2 separate regions of the Homo sapiens genome follow, and region 1 is linked to region 2. A link means that fine-mapping ties the variant in region 2 to the expression of a gene that starts in the linked region. Tissue or cell type: lung. Region 2 holds a variant in brackets; the other region holds the start of a gene. All regions are shown on one strand. Distances are between the middles of the regions.

What was found.
Region 1: CACNB4 starts here. The variant in region 2 is fine-mapped to the expression of CACNB4 in lung (TOPMed, PIP above 0.99).

Annotation. Positions count from the first base shown.
Region 1 is chr2:152,094,042-152,102,382 of GRCh38, forward strand. CACNB4 (calcium voltage-gated channel auxiliary subunit beta 4) reads right to left here and starts at 5,003. Exons shown (of 14, transcript NM_000726.5): 1 at 4,908-5,003; 2 at 4,289-4,372. The coding sequence starts at 4,970. RefSeq lists a silencer at 4,912-5,201.
Region 2 is chr2:152,063,401-152,071,741 of GRCh38, forward strand. The region is part of intron 2 of CACNB4 (calcium voltage-gated channel auxiliary subunit beta 4); the gene reads right to left. Among named protein-coding and RNA genes, the nearest start is that of CACNB4, 31 kb to the right of the region's middle. The variant T/C (reference allele first, on the strand shown) is at 4,567.

The sequences.
Region 1 (8,341 bases), 31 kb after region 2:
TGCAGACATGTCCCTGTCCTTGTGGAACTCATACGGATGGGGAGACAGAATGTAACAGAGAAATCTAAGTACATGTTAAATAAAAGCGGTGGTGCTACTGAAAACTGGCACAAGGCCCTCTGGGAGCCCCTTGTTGGGGAACTGACTTTATCAGGAAGGTTAGAAGAGGAAGTGAAGACTAAACCCCCAGATCTCAGGGAAGATTAAAAGTTAACTAGGCAGAAGGAAGGACAACAACCTGCCACACAGAGGGCTCAGCATATGCAAAGGACCAGTGGCAAGAGGGAAGACAGTGTGTTCAAACTCTGTGTCCAGAGCTAAGAGATCATGGCTCAAGATGAGGCTGGAAGCAGGCAGGGGCCAGGCCAGGTATGACTTTGCTGGCCTCATAAGAGCAGACTTAACAAGGAAAAGTCAACAAACTATTCCCACTCTGATCAGATTTTCTCTTCAAACCCCAGTGGGAAGAGGACTAACTTGGAGTACTCAGCCGTATAAACTGTATGTGTAGTGACACCCATGGGTAGATATACTTATGGATATATAATAGATACTCGGGGTACATGGTCATTGAGCCCGCCCTCTCGTTCCTTGTTACATGTCACCGTACTGTTTGTAGACATCTCTGTCTCCATTGCTAGATTATAAAAATCTTTGAGTACAGGGGCTGTGTCTCATCCATCTTTTCATTCCTCCCCTACAATATCTAACATAGTGCTAGGCACATAGCAAATACTTAAGTGTTTCCTAAAACTTTAAAATATGACTAGATAATCCATTCATAAATAGCCTGTAAGAAGGGCTCTCCTGAAAGAAAATTCTATGGCCTCATTTGGAAAGCCACTCCAATGATGGCAACACTCTTAGGAAGGTCTTGCTGTAAAACATCATTCCTTTCTAATTTGGGCCAGTTCTTGAGTTTCATCCCCAATGAAGAGTGAGAACACTTCATCACATTTCCAAAGAAAGCCTTTGTGTGTACTTTGAAGATCATTTCTGGGTCACTCCTAGCTTTCTTTCCTTTCAGCGGCAAAGTACTTCATCTTCTCACCTTTCCTCAAAGAAGCCATTTATTTGCTCCCTGGATTCATTCCAAAACCTCCATCCCTCCTAAATGGTGGAAGCCAGAAATCTTGTAGACCAGAAACAAGGTCAAAGATTCCTGAGGGGCTTCATGAGCAGTCCTCAGAGTGGAAGCAGGCTCTCTTTCTCAGTCTGCTTGTTTTCCAGCCAATTCAAATGTTCATGTGTGTGCATGCACACATATGTGCATATATAGTCTCAGAAACACTGAAACTTTTTAACAAGCTCAAAGAACAAATATTGTCTTATTGGGTGAGTTGCCAACTGCCTTCTCTGCTTCACCAACAGCCCAGTCTTCCCCATCCAATGTAACACATCGATTTTTTTTTTAATGAAAGCTTTTCTCCATATTTTTGTAAATAATATGATAAAGAAACTAGCAATATATATATTTTTTGGTATTCCACTATCTTCTTCAAAGGCATCACAAAGACTGTGAAACAGCACCAAGAAATTTCATCACTCCAATGTATCAAGAATTCAAATATCAATAAATCACTGGTCATTCTACAAATAATGAGACTCTGTTTTTGTTTGTTTGTTTGTTTGATGGAGTCCTGCTCTGTCGCCCGGCTGGAATGCTGTGGAGCAATACTGGCTCACTGCAACCTCCACCGCCTAGGTTCAAAAAATTCTCCTGCCTCAGCCTCCCGAGTAGCTGGGATTACAAGCACACACCACCACGCTTGGCAAATTTCTTTGTATTTTTAGTACAGTCGGGGTTTCACCATGCTACCAGGCTGGTTTGAAACTCCTGACCTCAAGTGATCCGCCCACCTCAGCCTCCCAAAGTGCTGGGATTACAGGCGTGAGCCACTGTGACCAGCCCAAGGCTCTGTTAACGTAAGCAGCTGTTATGCTTTCATAAAAAATATTTTTTGGCATTGGGGTGATTTCAATTTTATCCGAAAGTTATTGTTAAACTGCATTTGTAATCATTTTCCTTATCTCATCAAAGAAATGTAAATCCCTCAGTTATTTTTATTGTAGCCAATACAGAAGTCTGTATGATGTCATTTGAATGAGATCATGTGTAGTATACTCAGTGAGTTGTAAAGTGCTCATAAAAATTAAGTAGCCCGGGCATGGTGGCTCACGCCTGTAATCCCAGCACTTTGGGAGGATGAGGTGGGCAGATCACGAGGTCAGGAGATAAAGACCATCCTGGCTAACACGGTGAAACCCTGTCTCCACTAAAAATACAAAAAAGTTAGCCAGGCGTGATGGCGGGTGCCTGTAGTCTCAGCTACTCGGGAGGCTGAGGCAGGAGAATGGCGTGAACCCAGGAGGCAGAGCTTGCAGTAAGCAGAGACTGCGTCACTGCACCCCAGCCTGGGCGACAGAGCAAGACTCCGTCTGAAAAAAGAAAAAAATTAAGTACTATTTTTGTGCCGAAAAATAAGATTGTGTATATAATACAATTACAATTAACTCCTGAATTTAAATTAGACCATTTAATCAAACCAATGAATTCCCATTTCATAGATGAAATATATTTATTTAAAAAAATCTACTTTGCTTTAAATTATTCCCAAAATTATTTAGCATGCAATACTTTTAACATTTCTTAAGCCAGCACATAGCAGCACGCTTTACAAGAACTTATATATACATCATCTCAATCAGTTACGGGCATAAATTGAGAAAAGAGTAAGAATATTAGAATATTATTTTGTTTGTGCTTGGAAGGAAGAATAAAGCATTAGTGCAGTTATGTAGATGAACTCAAAAGTTTTAGTCAAACAGCTTATGGAAAGAACTGCTGTGTAATTAGTATTTCCAAGAATTTGCAACAATGAAACACCACTAAAAATAGGCACCTACAAAATAAACACCAGCAAGACCTCAAACAGTTGCATAACAGAAAAATGTTTTTAAGATAAACAATATGTTTGCCTTATCAAATACATAATCTAAATACTGCAAAGGGGATAGAATGCACTTTTAGAATGAATTCGGAATCCAAAATGCATTTATTTCCATAATGTACATGCTTAGTGCTCGCTGAATTAAATGGTAGTCAAAATTTCCGCTTCTGCAGAAAGTGAAATTCTGCATAATAAATATCATCTAAATATGCTTTATAGACCCTTTTAGGAGAGGTCTGAGTTCAATTTTGATATCAATTCCTCGTTGATATGTTTAAATTGATGATAATCACTAAAGAAACACCAGAGCTGCCATCATAGGTTAGAAAACACATTACACAATACTGAGTGACCTAGAGGGAAAAGAACTTCTCAAGGTCACTCCAGCAGCCCACAGGAAGACCTGGGATAAAAGCCTCTTGGTGCGATGACCAATGTCTTCCTAGGTCACCCGAAACCTAGGACACACCCCGACAATTTCTGTTCCAAAGAAAGATCAAGGTGACTCATTGCATGATCTCTCTAGCACCCAGCAGCCAGGGGTGGTTTCATTAACAGCACATGGACAGTTGGAAAACTGAGGACCAATTTCCTGTGCCAAGGTGAAAGGCACCTAAGCATTGAGCATTACCAGCGATCCGGAGATCCCGAGCACAGACAATTCGCACTAGAACCACGCAGGAGAAAGCAAGCACTAAGAAAACAAACACGAAGTGAAGGCGCACCCAGACCCGGAGCTGAGTGCTGGCCTTCGTTAATTCCTATTTAACCAGATACAGCTGTCTTTCCCTAACTAAGCGAATCCAAGAAGCGGTCCTAAAGTGAGAGTAAACTTTCTGCTCAGTGTCTTTCTTTTGACCGGAGCTTGACGATCTCTCCCAAGATCCAGACAGATAAGAGTATTCAAATTAGGACAAAACAGAAGAAACCACTAAATCTCAACTCGAATCAAACCAGGTCCCCGGCCCCGAGGGGTCTGGTTACTCTAGGTCGAGTTATACGAATTAAAGACATTTCTCCACGCACCAAAGATACAACCAGACATATTTCCAGCTCTTAAATTCAACGTCCCTGACTTAAGCCAGGTCCCCACCGAACTGTCCACACACATGCACAAACTAACTTCCCGGGGCGGTGCGGAGACGCCGGGACGCGAAGACGTCAAGAGCCCAGGCTAGAGGGAGAGGGACTGAGCCCGAGCACCGGCCGAGGCCGGGAAGAGACGCGCGCGGGCTTGACCCGCAGCTCCCGCACGTGTGGGCCACGGCCGGCTCCAGGACCCCCGCGCCGCGCGCTCGGCCTCCTCCCCATCCTGGTCTCCCGCCTCCTTCTCATACCTGTCTGAGGATGAAGCTGGTCGAAGTGGTGCTGCCATCGGATCTTTTCAACCTGCTCCTCCGGGTTGTGGTGCCTCGGGCCACCTGGACTCGACACACGGGGGCCAGAGAGAAGCCGGTGAGGACCGCAGCGCAGAGCGGGGCGACCACCCCCGGCTGGAGTCCGCCTCCGGACCCGCTCCCTGGGGTCCCCTAGAGCCCGCACCCAAGTCTCCTCCGCGACTCCCAAATACAGCCCCCACCCCCACCCACCCACTGCAAGCCTCGACTGCTGAAAAGATGCTCGAGAAGAGCAGCCCGCAAGCACCCACCACATCCATTAACAAAGACTCTCAGGGTGCGGGGTCCGAGTCCCCGGCATCCGCTGGGGGAGGCTGCGGGCTCCGGAGCGGGAGCGCAGAGACCCGAAGGAGGGTGAGGAGGAGGAGGAAGAGAAGGAGGAGAAAGAGGAGGAGCGGGAGGAGAAAGGGACGTGGAGGAGGGGTGGGGGGAGCGGGGCCGCCGACTCCCGGGACTGGGGCCCCGCACGCCCGGCACGAAGGCGGGGCGCGCTAGGGCGGCGGAGGAGGTGTGAGGAAGGAAGAGGAGGAAGAGGAGAAGGGGGAGGAGGGGGCGGTACCTGCGAGGTGGGGGAGTGCGGCCCGTCCGCGGTCCCGTTCTTGGCGTAGGAGGAGGAGGACATCGTTCAGAGCCGCCGCATGGCCAGCCCGTGTGCGGTGGGCGGAGGGGGCTGGCCCCCGAGGCTGGGCTGCGGACGGAGGGGGAGGGCGCAGGACTTCCCCACCCGGCTCCAGGACCCGCGCCGGCGCCCAGGCTCCCTGCCCGCACTTCGGAGAGCGCGGCACCTTAAAGGGACCGAGGCGCTTCCCCCGCGCTCGCGGCGGGGTCCCGGGGAGGGGGCTTCTCGGAAACTCGCCTACCCGAGCGGATTGGGAGAAGCGCTCTCCCACCTAGCAAGCGCTTTACATCAGAGCTTCCAGAGGATGAAGGGAGGGGGAAATCTGGGATGGGGGTGGCAAGATTAAAATAGTCTGCACAGTTTAAAATGAGACAAAGGTGGCACGGTTCATGAATCAGGACTTGGGGACGGAAGCTGGTGCAGTGTGGCGGGAATGGGAAGAACCGAGCGGGTGTGTGTGTGTGTGTTTGCTGCACTGGAATTTTAAAAGGGCAAGAGCAGAGCCACCTTCCGCGACTTCACTCATCAGCCTAATGTGTAAGGCATGGGGTTTTGTGGCTTGCTTTTCGTCCGTGTTTTTGTATTGCTTTGGCAATTCTGTCCTTAGAGCTGCGAGTCACACACATCCAGGCAGCTGTGAGAAACCCAGCCAGCCTGAGTCTGACGGGAGATGCTGCCCCGCCAAAGACCAGTATGTCCTACGGAGTTTTGAAGGTCATGTTAGACCTGCTAAGAAGCAAGAGTTGGTCACTGTGCCTCCCATTTCTATGCGAATGGATATTTTCAAGGGGGAGAAACTCATCCTTGCAACCATACACAACGTTTGCCATTGGTTTCCTCCTGTAAATACATACAAGAGATTAATTTGTGATCAAATTAAAAGAGAGGGATTGCGGAAAGGAAGAATAAGTGCGAGGTATTGACAGAGGAATAAGAAGAGGGAAGAAAAGTATATGCAAATTCAAAAATAAAGAGACTCCGTTTAAATTAAAATATACTTACTATCTCAAATCGCTAAATCAGCTTGCATTCTAGGACTTTATGTTTATGGACACAACTACCATGCTTGTTTTAATAATTGCTTGGCTTTATTGAGGTCCTGGTTATATCTTACCATCCACCAGACACTTCCTTTCCATTCCTAATCCCTTCACTTAATCCAAACCTCTGTAACAATCTTATAACTAATGTCCTTGCCTCCAGGCTTCCTGGTGCATGTGCACGTATGCACATGCACACATACACACGCAGAGATTTCATTCCATCTACACACTACAGGCAAAACCATTTTCCTAAAATATCTTGCCCAAGTCACTCTTCTCTAAGATAAAGTCCAAACTCCATGGTCCAACAACTCAGCCTCTCCTGCATTTCTGATCACTCTCCATCTCATTTCTCCATCTTGATCTCTCTATACAAACCTTCCAGCAAGCAGGCAGGTCTAGTCATCAATACCCAAGTATTCCAAATACAATCACATTTGAGCTCTTCTGCTTTGGAATGCCTCCTTGGAATATGCCCTCCCAACAACCTACACACCCGGCTGAATCCTACCTTTCTTCTAAATGGGACTCAGCTCACGCTTCCTCCACAGAAATCCTATCTGACTACTCCAGTCCCACATAATTCTTGTGCTTCTGAAAAACTGGAGCATGTATTCTCTGGGCACTTAGAATAGGCTGCCTTAGCTTATTAGTTTGTTAGTTCTGTTTTTGTGAAAATCTCCTAATTTTCAGAATTTTTAGCGGTTTATCTTCTATTCCTATACCTTCCATATAGTAGATACTCCATGAATTTATGGGGAATGGAGGTCTAACCATGCAGGACTCCCTACTTTAGTTACTGTCAACCCAATCCGTATTTAGTTCTGAGCCATTTTCATAGTTGATACGTGTGTGCATATTAAATTACTATGTGAGCACTGGACTTTGAATTGTGTGGTTTTCCACTGTCCACATTCTCACTGACTTTAAGTTATTGAAACAGAACCCACAGAGGCATAACAACATGAGAAGCCCTGTACACCCAGCTCAAAGCAAAACTGGTGAAAATTATATGTTTTATATATAAGCAACCATTTAAATTTCTAAAAATGGTCCTAAAGGTGCACAACAAATGAAGGAACATTTATTCAAGAAAACCTACTGAAACCCAGTAAGAAAAGTGAGCTTGAGGTATTTGAACCAAGACCTACTCACTCTTTTCATGCTTCCAACTCAGAGAGGGCTCCACGCTATACTGGTGCAGCCAAGAACACAGGGCTCCCTCACCCTTCAGCTCCCAGTTGGAGGGTCAGCTTCCTAGGAGGGACAAAACATCAGCATTTGTCATCCTCCCCGCAGCTACCTGTTGTTGAGACTAAGTTCTAAGCAAGTATGGCAGAGGTGGGGGCTCCCTTCTTCTGCCCAGTTGTACCTGGAGGCTGTACCTTGGCCACAGCAGCACTGAGTGTACTTGGGCCTTGATCACCTTTGCTTCTGGCTCATCGAGAAAGAAGTCAGGAAACGTGGGACTGCTTTGAGTGCTTCTGCCAGAAACATTCAGCATCTAACATGGTGATGTCACTCAGAGAGAGGTGCATCATTGTCCCTACCTCTGACACCAGAGTGGAAAAAATGATGTTGAACCCTGACCTTACATCAAGGATCCCCAACCCCCAGGCCACAGACTAGTACCAGTCTGTGGCCTGTTAGGAACTGGGCCACACAGCAGGGAGTGAGCGGTGGGGCAAGTGAGCATTATGGCCTGAGCTCCGCCTCTTGTCAGATCAGGGGTGGCATTACATTCTCATAGGAGTGCAAACTCTATTGTGAACTGCACATGCACGGGATCTAGGTTGTGGGCTTCTTATGAGAATCTAATGCCTGATTATCTGTCACTATCTCCCCTCACCCCCAGATGAGACCATCTAGTTACAGGAAAACAAGCTCAAGTCTCCCACTGATTCTACATTATGGTGAGTATGTAATAATAATAGAAATAAAGTGCACAATAAATGTAATGTGCTTGAATCATCCCCAAACCATCCTCCATCCCCGTCCCATAGAAAATTGATCTTCCATGAAACCAATCCCTAGTGCCAAAAAGGCTGGGGATTGCTGCCTTATATCATATACAAAAATTAACTCAAAATTAATCAAAGACTTAAAAGAGTTAAAAATATAAAACTATTAGAAGATAAGGGTAAATCTTCATGACCTTAGATTTGGCAATAAATTCTTAGACATGACACCAAAAGCATGAGTAGGAAAAGAAAAAAATGTTAGACAGGCATGGTGGTGCGTGTCTGTGGTCCCAGCTAACCAAGAAGCTGAGGTGGGAGGATTGCTTAAGCCCAGGAGGTCGAGGCTGCAGTGAGCTGTGACACGTCACTG
Region 2 (8,341 bases):
AGAGAGTGATTAATGTGCCCAGGGTCCCACAGTTAGAAAACAGCAGAGTCAGAACCTGAACCCAGGCAATCTTGCTCTAGAGGCTGTTTGGAAAATCACACTGCACCAAGCCAGCTCCAGCCTGTGCATGCAATCAAGCTCCTGGGGTTCTCAGCAAATAAACCAGGTAAACAGCACTCCTCACAGATTGAGGTTTGAAGAGTTTTCTGCATATTACATAATTTCAAGAAGCCTGTGTTAATATTAACACTTGCAAAATTTAGACCAAAGCAAACAACTTAAATTCTACAGAAGACACATAAGTAATATAAGTGAGTGAAGCACACTGGCTGTGAGGCGGGGGGCAGGGTTAATGAGGACCAAGAGGGCAGATGCCTACCTAAAAGAGGCAGCCACCCATCAGCTCCGAATGTCTTCCTAGAAGAATGAAAAGCCAGTTTTGCCATTCCTCACAATTTTTCCAGAAAAGTTGAAAATTCAGACTCGTGTACAAAATCCCCCAACTTTCAAATCTTGGCAGTCATTCAAAATTATTTTTTTCTGAATGATGAGCCAAACAAAACCTATCTGCCAACACAGGCTGACACCCCTGTTCTAAATTCATTGTAATTCTCAGCAGACAATGTAATAACAGTCTTGTGAATGATAGAGTACTGGAAATTAACAGAAGTTCTGAAATGTTAGGAAGACAGTCTTCAATATATAACTACACACAGAGGTTAGTTTAGGTCTAGCTATGTCTAACGGTGAGTACATGGGTCCAAACATCTCTTAAAATTCACATTGTTGAAGTGCATGAAGGGAGCCATGGACATCTGAATCGGATGTCTCCCACGTGGACTTTGGCAGCCCAGGGAGAAGGCAAAAACATTTGCTGGAGTGCAGGAAGAAAATATTCAAGTCTCTATTTCCATATTCAAATCTATATTTTATTCTTTAATATTTCATTTTTGTATATGCACCAGAATGTTTATAATGTACTTTATTTACTTATTTTTGAGACGGAGTCTCGCTCTGTCACACAGGCTGGAGTGCAGTGTTGCGATCTCAGCTCACTGCAACCTCTGCCTCCCAGGTTCAAGCGATTCTCCTGCCTCAGCCTCCCAAGTAGCTGGGATTACAGGCACGCCACACCATGCCCAGCTAATTTTTGTATTTTTTTAGTAGAGACAGGGTTTCACCATGTTGGCCAGGCTAGTCTCAAACTCCTGACCTCAAGTGATCCGCCCACCTTGGCCTCCCAAAGTGCTGGGATTACAGGCATGAGCCACCACGCCCGGCCCTATAATGTACTTTAAAGTAGTACATACATATGTTCTTCAAATAATAAATACAGGTAAGAAAGAAAACAGACTTTTTCATAATTATCACCTAAGACAGTTACCCAAAAACTGGTATCAAAATATATCCGGGCAAAGAAACTAGACCATAAAATCTAAGAAATTCTGTCTAGATTGTCATAAAATCCAAGAAATCCTCTCCACCTGTCATAGAGAGAAACTAGACCCCCAATATTAAATCCAGAGAAGCTTGACCCTTGAGTTCACAATCAGCTGCTACACAGCAGCGCTCCTATGAAACTTCAAGACCAGCAGAAGGAATGGCTCTTTAGGGCAAGGACTGATTCTTATTCACCTTTCCATGCATACTCTTGCTTGTGTGGTAAATGTGATTTACTTGCATGTCTGTCCCCCAACCCAAACCCAGAATAGTTCCAACTTTAAGAGAAGTTAGCACTTTGGGAGACCGAGGTGGGCAGATCATTTGAGGTCAGGAGTTCGATACCAGCCTAGCTAACATGGTGAAACCCTGTCTCTACTAACAATACCAAAAATTAGCTGGGTGTGGTGATGCACGCCTATAATCCCAACTACTCGGGAGGCTGAGGCAGGAGAATCACTTGAACCCGGAGCCAGAGGTTGCAGTGAGCCAAGATTGTGCCACTGCACTCCAACCTGGGTGGCAGAGCAAGACTCCATCTCAAAAGAAAAAAAAAAAAAAGAGAGAGAGAGAAGTTACATGCTTTTTCCCCAGGGAACTTCACTTAGGGCTTGGTTAGATCTGCTAAAGTCACATGGATCACCCCCGCCCACTGAAGTATGAGGGAAAGAAAGAGTGCTGGGAAGAAAAGGTTTTAGCAATGTGCTACTTTGACTAGGTCTTGAAGGACTTCACACAGGACAAATTCAGGCTCTTGGCTATAGTGTTTAACTTTCCTACATTCTACTTGGAAAGTAACAGCAAGCAGAAATTTACTTACATCATTGATTCTCTCTCTTCTACACTCTCCACTTGTCCTTTCCTCAGGTTGTCCTATATGTCCTCACATTAAGCCTAAAATCTTTATGTAAGGGGGTAATTTTTTTAAGATGGGTTGTCACTCTGTTGCTCAGGCTGGAATGCACTGGTGCAATCACTGCAACCTCCAATTCCTGGGCTTAAACGATCCTCCTGTCTCAGACTCCCAAGTAGCTGGGACTACAGATGTTTGCTACCACATCTGGCCTAAGGGGGTATAATATTTTTAAAGTAACACTATTCTTGGTTACAAAAGTTAAATATATTTATATCAGAAATAATAGAAAACAAAGAAGAAAAGTGGATACATTTAGTGAGCACAATAAATGAATGCATCTTAAATCAATCAAGTGGAATAAAGCCTATACAGGAAGCCCTTCAAGTACTTCGCAACCTCTCAGCCCCACATCTTACTCCAGCCTCTGCTGACGTGGCCACGTACATGCAGGCTCAACCAGATTCAAACAGGTATAATCAGACAGCACCTTGCCTCTGCCTCCCTCTCCCCCTTCCACATACCTTTCACCTCCTGCTCCAGAGCTTTCAAATGCCAACTAAGGCTTAGGAGCAGCTCCACACTCATGCATTTGCAACCCAGAAGAAAAACAAACAACCCCATCAAAAAGTGGGCAAAGGACATGAACAGACACTTCTCAAAAGAAGACATTTATGCAGCCAAAAAACACATGAAAAAATGCTCACTATCACTGGCCATCAGAGAAATGCAAATCAAAACCACAATGAGATACCATTTCACACCAGTTAGAATGGCAATCATTAAAAAGTCAGGAAACAACAGGTGCTGGAGAGGATGTGGAGAAATAGGAACACTTTTACACTGTTGGTGGGACTGTAAACTAGTTCAACCATTGTGGAAGTCAGTGTGGCGATTCCTCAGGGATCTAGAACTAGAAATACCATTTGACCTAGCCATCCCATTACTGGGTATATACCCAAAGGACTATAAATCATGCTGCTATAAAGACACATGCACACGTATGTTTATTGTGGCATTATTCGCAATAGCAAAGACTTGGAACCAACCCAAATGTCCAACAATGATAGACTGGATTAAGAAAATGTGGCACATATACACCACGGAATACTATGCAGCCATAAAAAATGATGAGTTCATGTCCTTTGTAGGGACATGGATGAAATTGGAAATCATCATTCTCAGTAAACTACCGCAAGAACAAAAAACCAAACACCGCATATTCTCACTCATAGGTGGGAATTGAACAATGAGAACACATGGACACAGGAAGGGGAACATCACACTCTGGGGACTGTTTTGGGGTGGGGGGAGGGGGGAGGGATAGCACTGGGAGATATACCTAATGCTAGATGACGAGTTAGTGGGTGCAGCGCACCAGCATGGCACATGTATACATATGTAACTAACCTGCACATTGTGCACATGTACCCTAAAACTTAAAGTATAATAATAAATAAATTAATTAATTAAAAAAAAGAAGTGCAGGGGAGTAAATGCCTGTGGGCCACTCTTGGCCAATGGGGACAGAAGCAAATGGACACATGCTTCTGCATGTCAGCCCCAAGGCAGACAGTTCTGAGATATATTTTATATGGCTCCTCAAAAGTGCCTGAGATCAAGTACCCAGTATTCTCAGCAGTGGTCAGTTTGATAATGTATTCTTTTTTGTTTTTTATAGAGATGTGTGTGTGTGGGGGGGGGGGTGCCTCTCACTGTGTTGCCCAGGCTGGTCTTGAACTCCTGGACTCAAGCAATCCTCCCACCTCAGCTTCCCAAAGTGCTGAGATTACAGGTATGAGCCAATGTGCCCAGCCTGATAATGTATTCTTGTACTGGCTTTTTCTCCTTCCCTTTTCTCTTCCTAGGTCCTTTACTCCAATTGGGATCTCATCCCAAATAAACTACCTGAATGCAAGCAATTATCTCAGGATCTGTTTTTGCAGGGACTTGAGCTATAAAGGCAAGTGGCCTTAGAAAGCAGCCCCTCTGGATCATGGAGCTAGATCACCCGCCCTATTGCTGGTGGTAAGTAGGATAGCAATCATCGCAGGCATACAGTAGCATCACATCTACTAAAACTCTTACCTGTGGTGAACTGGGATGAGGTACATATGGAAAGGGAAATAATGAATTAAGTGGTAGTTGTGGTACTTGAATGACATAGGGTCAATGGTAATTATAAGAATCATGGAGTTGTATGGCTTTTATTAACTGCTTTGGAAGCCTTGAAGAGGTAATATTAAAATTATATGTTTAGGTGCATTAACTAT[T/C]AACTCAAAGAGGATTGTGAAAGGCCTCCTTGACAGTGTTTAGGTTGACTCATTGCCTGCAGCCATGGGGCTGAAAATCAGGCTCAGGAACTAACTATAAAGCTGAAAGACCTGCAAAGGAAAATGAAGGCACAGTCTCAGTACGTCTCTCATGTCAAAGTCAGAGCCCTCATAGGAAAAGAGAGGATTCCAAGACCTGGAATCAGGGCATCTGGGCAGACATCTGAGAATCTTTAATCCTCAGGTTCCTTTGAATTCTCCAAACCATTAGCAACTCTCCCTTCCTCTTGCTAGAGGAGAGCAATATCCCCTTGCCTAGAGACCCTGCAAAGTCTTCACATGAGGTAGCTGCCTAACAAGGAAATTTTTGTCCTTTTTAAGATCTGCTGCCAGTTAATCTCTTTGCCTCTGAGCCAGTAACTACAGTCAGGTCCCGGCACAGCCCAAGCAGGGAAATATAGTTCCTGCTGCAGAAGTAAACTGCTTATTCATCAAAGGAATATGTATCAGTGGGAACCAGAGGAAGATCATCGGGAGTGGTTTTAGACCAGGGGCTACAAAATGCTAAGTTGGATAAAGAATAATTTATTGATATGGGGGTACTCTTCCATGACTCTGGGTTCAAACTCCTGACAAGGACACCTGAAACCAGTCCTAACACCCAGATGGAATGGCTCCAAGAAGCCTGGATAGGAAGATGGTTTCCTGTTAATGAGGTGGAGATGCTGGATCTGAGGAGGTGATTAGAAGGGTCAGGGTGGTAAGATCATTAGTATAGATTTATTATATGAGACCGAAGAATCCACACCTATGTTTTCTGGAAGGATAGAAAGGAGAATTCTCCTTTCACAGAGGCTATAAAAAAGTGAACTGATGAAAGAGATGTTGATATCTTTGAGATGCACAGTTGGTCCCTTTGGGAACCATGTCATGTCCTCTAGGCCCTACCCCTCTAGCCACTGGCAATAATCAGGCCCACATAGGCTTTGACCAGCTTCACACTGAGGCGGTGACCTTTGGCTTTCTGGCCACAAAGAGGTGCCGGATGCTTGGCACTCACGCATGTGCAACTAGGTAGTATGAGGGAGCTAACCCCTGTGAGGCTACTCTCAGTCAATGGGGAACAGATGCCGGTGAATAAATGCTTCCCCCTACCGCTGTCCAGGGTGGACATTTCTGATCCACATTTCATGGGGCTTCACAGAGAGGCATGGTATCACCAATCACTAATTGCTCCCAGCACTGGCCAACTTGTTAATATATTCTGATATTAGTTCTTCACCCGCTCCAATCCCACTCCATGGAATCAATTCCCAAATAAATACCTGCATACATGCTATCACAGAAACATGGGATAAAACAAAGCCCAATAGTTTGGAGGGCAGGGGAGGAGTATTTTTATGTGGGTCAAGACCTCAAAGCCTCCTAGGAAATTGATCTTGCAGCAGAAGTGGCAGTGATAAGAGCATCATCACCAGATACTCACCCCCAACCAACCTCCCACTGAATCTCATCACAAGCACATAAAGAACACGCCTTTTTTTTTTTTTTTTTTCAGTAGAATCAAATTCTTCCTTCACACATACCCTCCACACTGGGTCTTTTATAGCTCAGCCTGATCAGCTGACAGCAAAGTAAATAAATATAGAGACACAACAGTGGAAAAATGAGGTGAAAAAGTTTTAACAGATATATAAATGAAACTCTCAGGTGATCTTGTCATAGGATTTCAGCTCCAATCACATATTAAAAAGAGCCCATTGCAGGGCCAGGCACTCCAGGTCTGCTTAATTTTCTTAATTTTCTGCTATTGGACAGAAAATATTCTCCTTTATTCTAGATCTTTTGATAGAACAACGACTTCATCAATCTTTTTTTTTTTTTTTTTTTTTTGGAGATGGAGTCTCGCTCAGTCGCCCAGGCTGGAGGGCAGTGGCACGATCTCGGCTCACTGCAAGCTCTGCCTCCCGGGTTCACACCATTCTCCTGCCTCAGCCTCCTGAGTAGCTGCGACTACAGGCACCCGCCACTACGCCTGGCTAATTTTTTTGTATTTTTATTAGAGACAGGGTTTCACCGTGTTAGCCAGGATGGTCTCGATCTCCTGACCTCGTGATCCGCCCGTCTTGGCCTCCCAAAGTGCTGGGATTACAGGCGTGAGCCACCACGCCTGGCCAACTTCATCAATATTTACAGCTAAACAAGCAAGAATATGTCATGACTTCACAAAAATAAACATTTAAAAGTCAATCCAAAAATAAGAATTGATTTTTCTGTGGGAGGTACAAACCACACTGTATCAAGAACAGGGCACTTCTTAGGAAAATGCAAGAATTTTAGCAAACCAAATATACCCGTCTCTTTAAAATATCTTTTCATGCTTTATTAGTGTACTTGCCTTAGAGAATCATTTATGTATTAGCTGGTTTGGGGTTGTAATTCTTTATGCATATCAAAGATACTAGAACCCAATCAAGTCAACATGGGCTGTGGCCCCATGAAGTCATACATGCTTTTTTTATAGTTGGCAAAAACACTACACTTAACACAAAAATGGGTGTTCACGGAAACCACACAAGAAGAAGACAGGCTTGGTTTTGTCTTTCACATCGATAATGAAATAATGCAATGCACTATTACTATGCTGTTGACCCCTAAGTGAAGTGTAGTACATAATCTGATTTGGCTAGCAAAAAGGAAGTTGGGAAAGAGAGGCTAATTTAAACAGGTATCCAATAGTTAATCATTTCAGCAAACCAATTGGCACATCCTAATCTGCATGAATATTAAAATTATATTCATATATGCTTTTTTATTTTGAGGCAGAGTCTCACTCTATTGCCCAGGCTGGAGTGCAGTGGCACACTCTTGGCTCACTGCAACCTCTGCCTCCCGAGTTCAAGCGAGTCTCCTGCCTCAGCCTCCTGAGTAGCTGGGACTACAGGCACACACCATCACACCCGGCTAATTTTTGTATTTTTGTAGAAACAGGGTTTCGCCATGTTGGCCTGGCTGGTCTCAAACTCCTGACCTCAAGCATCTGCCTGCCTCGGCTTCCCAGAGTGCTGAGATTACAGGCGTGAGCCACTGCACTCAGCCAACTTATATTCATACATGCTTAATCACAGTTGCTATATATCACAAATGATGCTGGATGAAGAAACAAGTAATCAAAGGCTGTATACTTAATAACTGTTGTTCACACTGAAATTTCTTAGGCTATTAATATCTAAGTTCTCTTCTGTGACTTTAGGCTATTTTAAAAAGGGGGAAAAATACAGAAACCTTGTTACCATGGAGACTGTAAGCCGGTCAGCCCATCTGCTGAAGAGGATATATAATTTTGTAAGTAGAATTTTTAAAACCTTACTATGAGAAACACTTCCTCAAACATAGCAGGGGTGAGAGAGTTACAGAAGATCTGGCAAACAGCCATTTGCAAAATTTGGGGCTATCATTATTTTGATACTAAACATGAATTTGCAGTAATTCTTATTAAGGGGAAGCTTTTAATATCTACACATTAGGCTGCTAAAGACATGAAACCTCTCGGCATGTTCTATGTTAATGATGGTTATGCCAATTTTTAGGGAAAAAAATTAAGAATTTACATTAAAAACTAGTCAAGGGAAACCTAAGATTTGGTTGGTTTGGTTTTTAAAAACTGCTCCAGATGTTTATTGCAGGTTTTTATAAAAATAGCAATTGGGCCTATAGTAACCCGAAAACAAAATTAGAATTATGCAATGTAAGCAATTATAGTGTGGAAGTACAA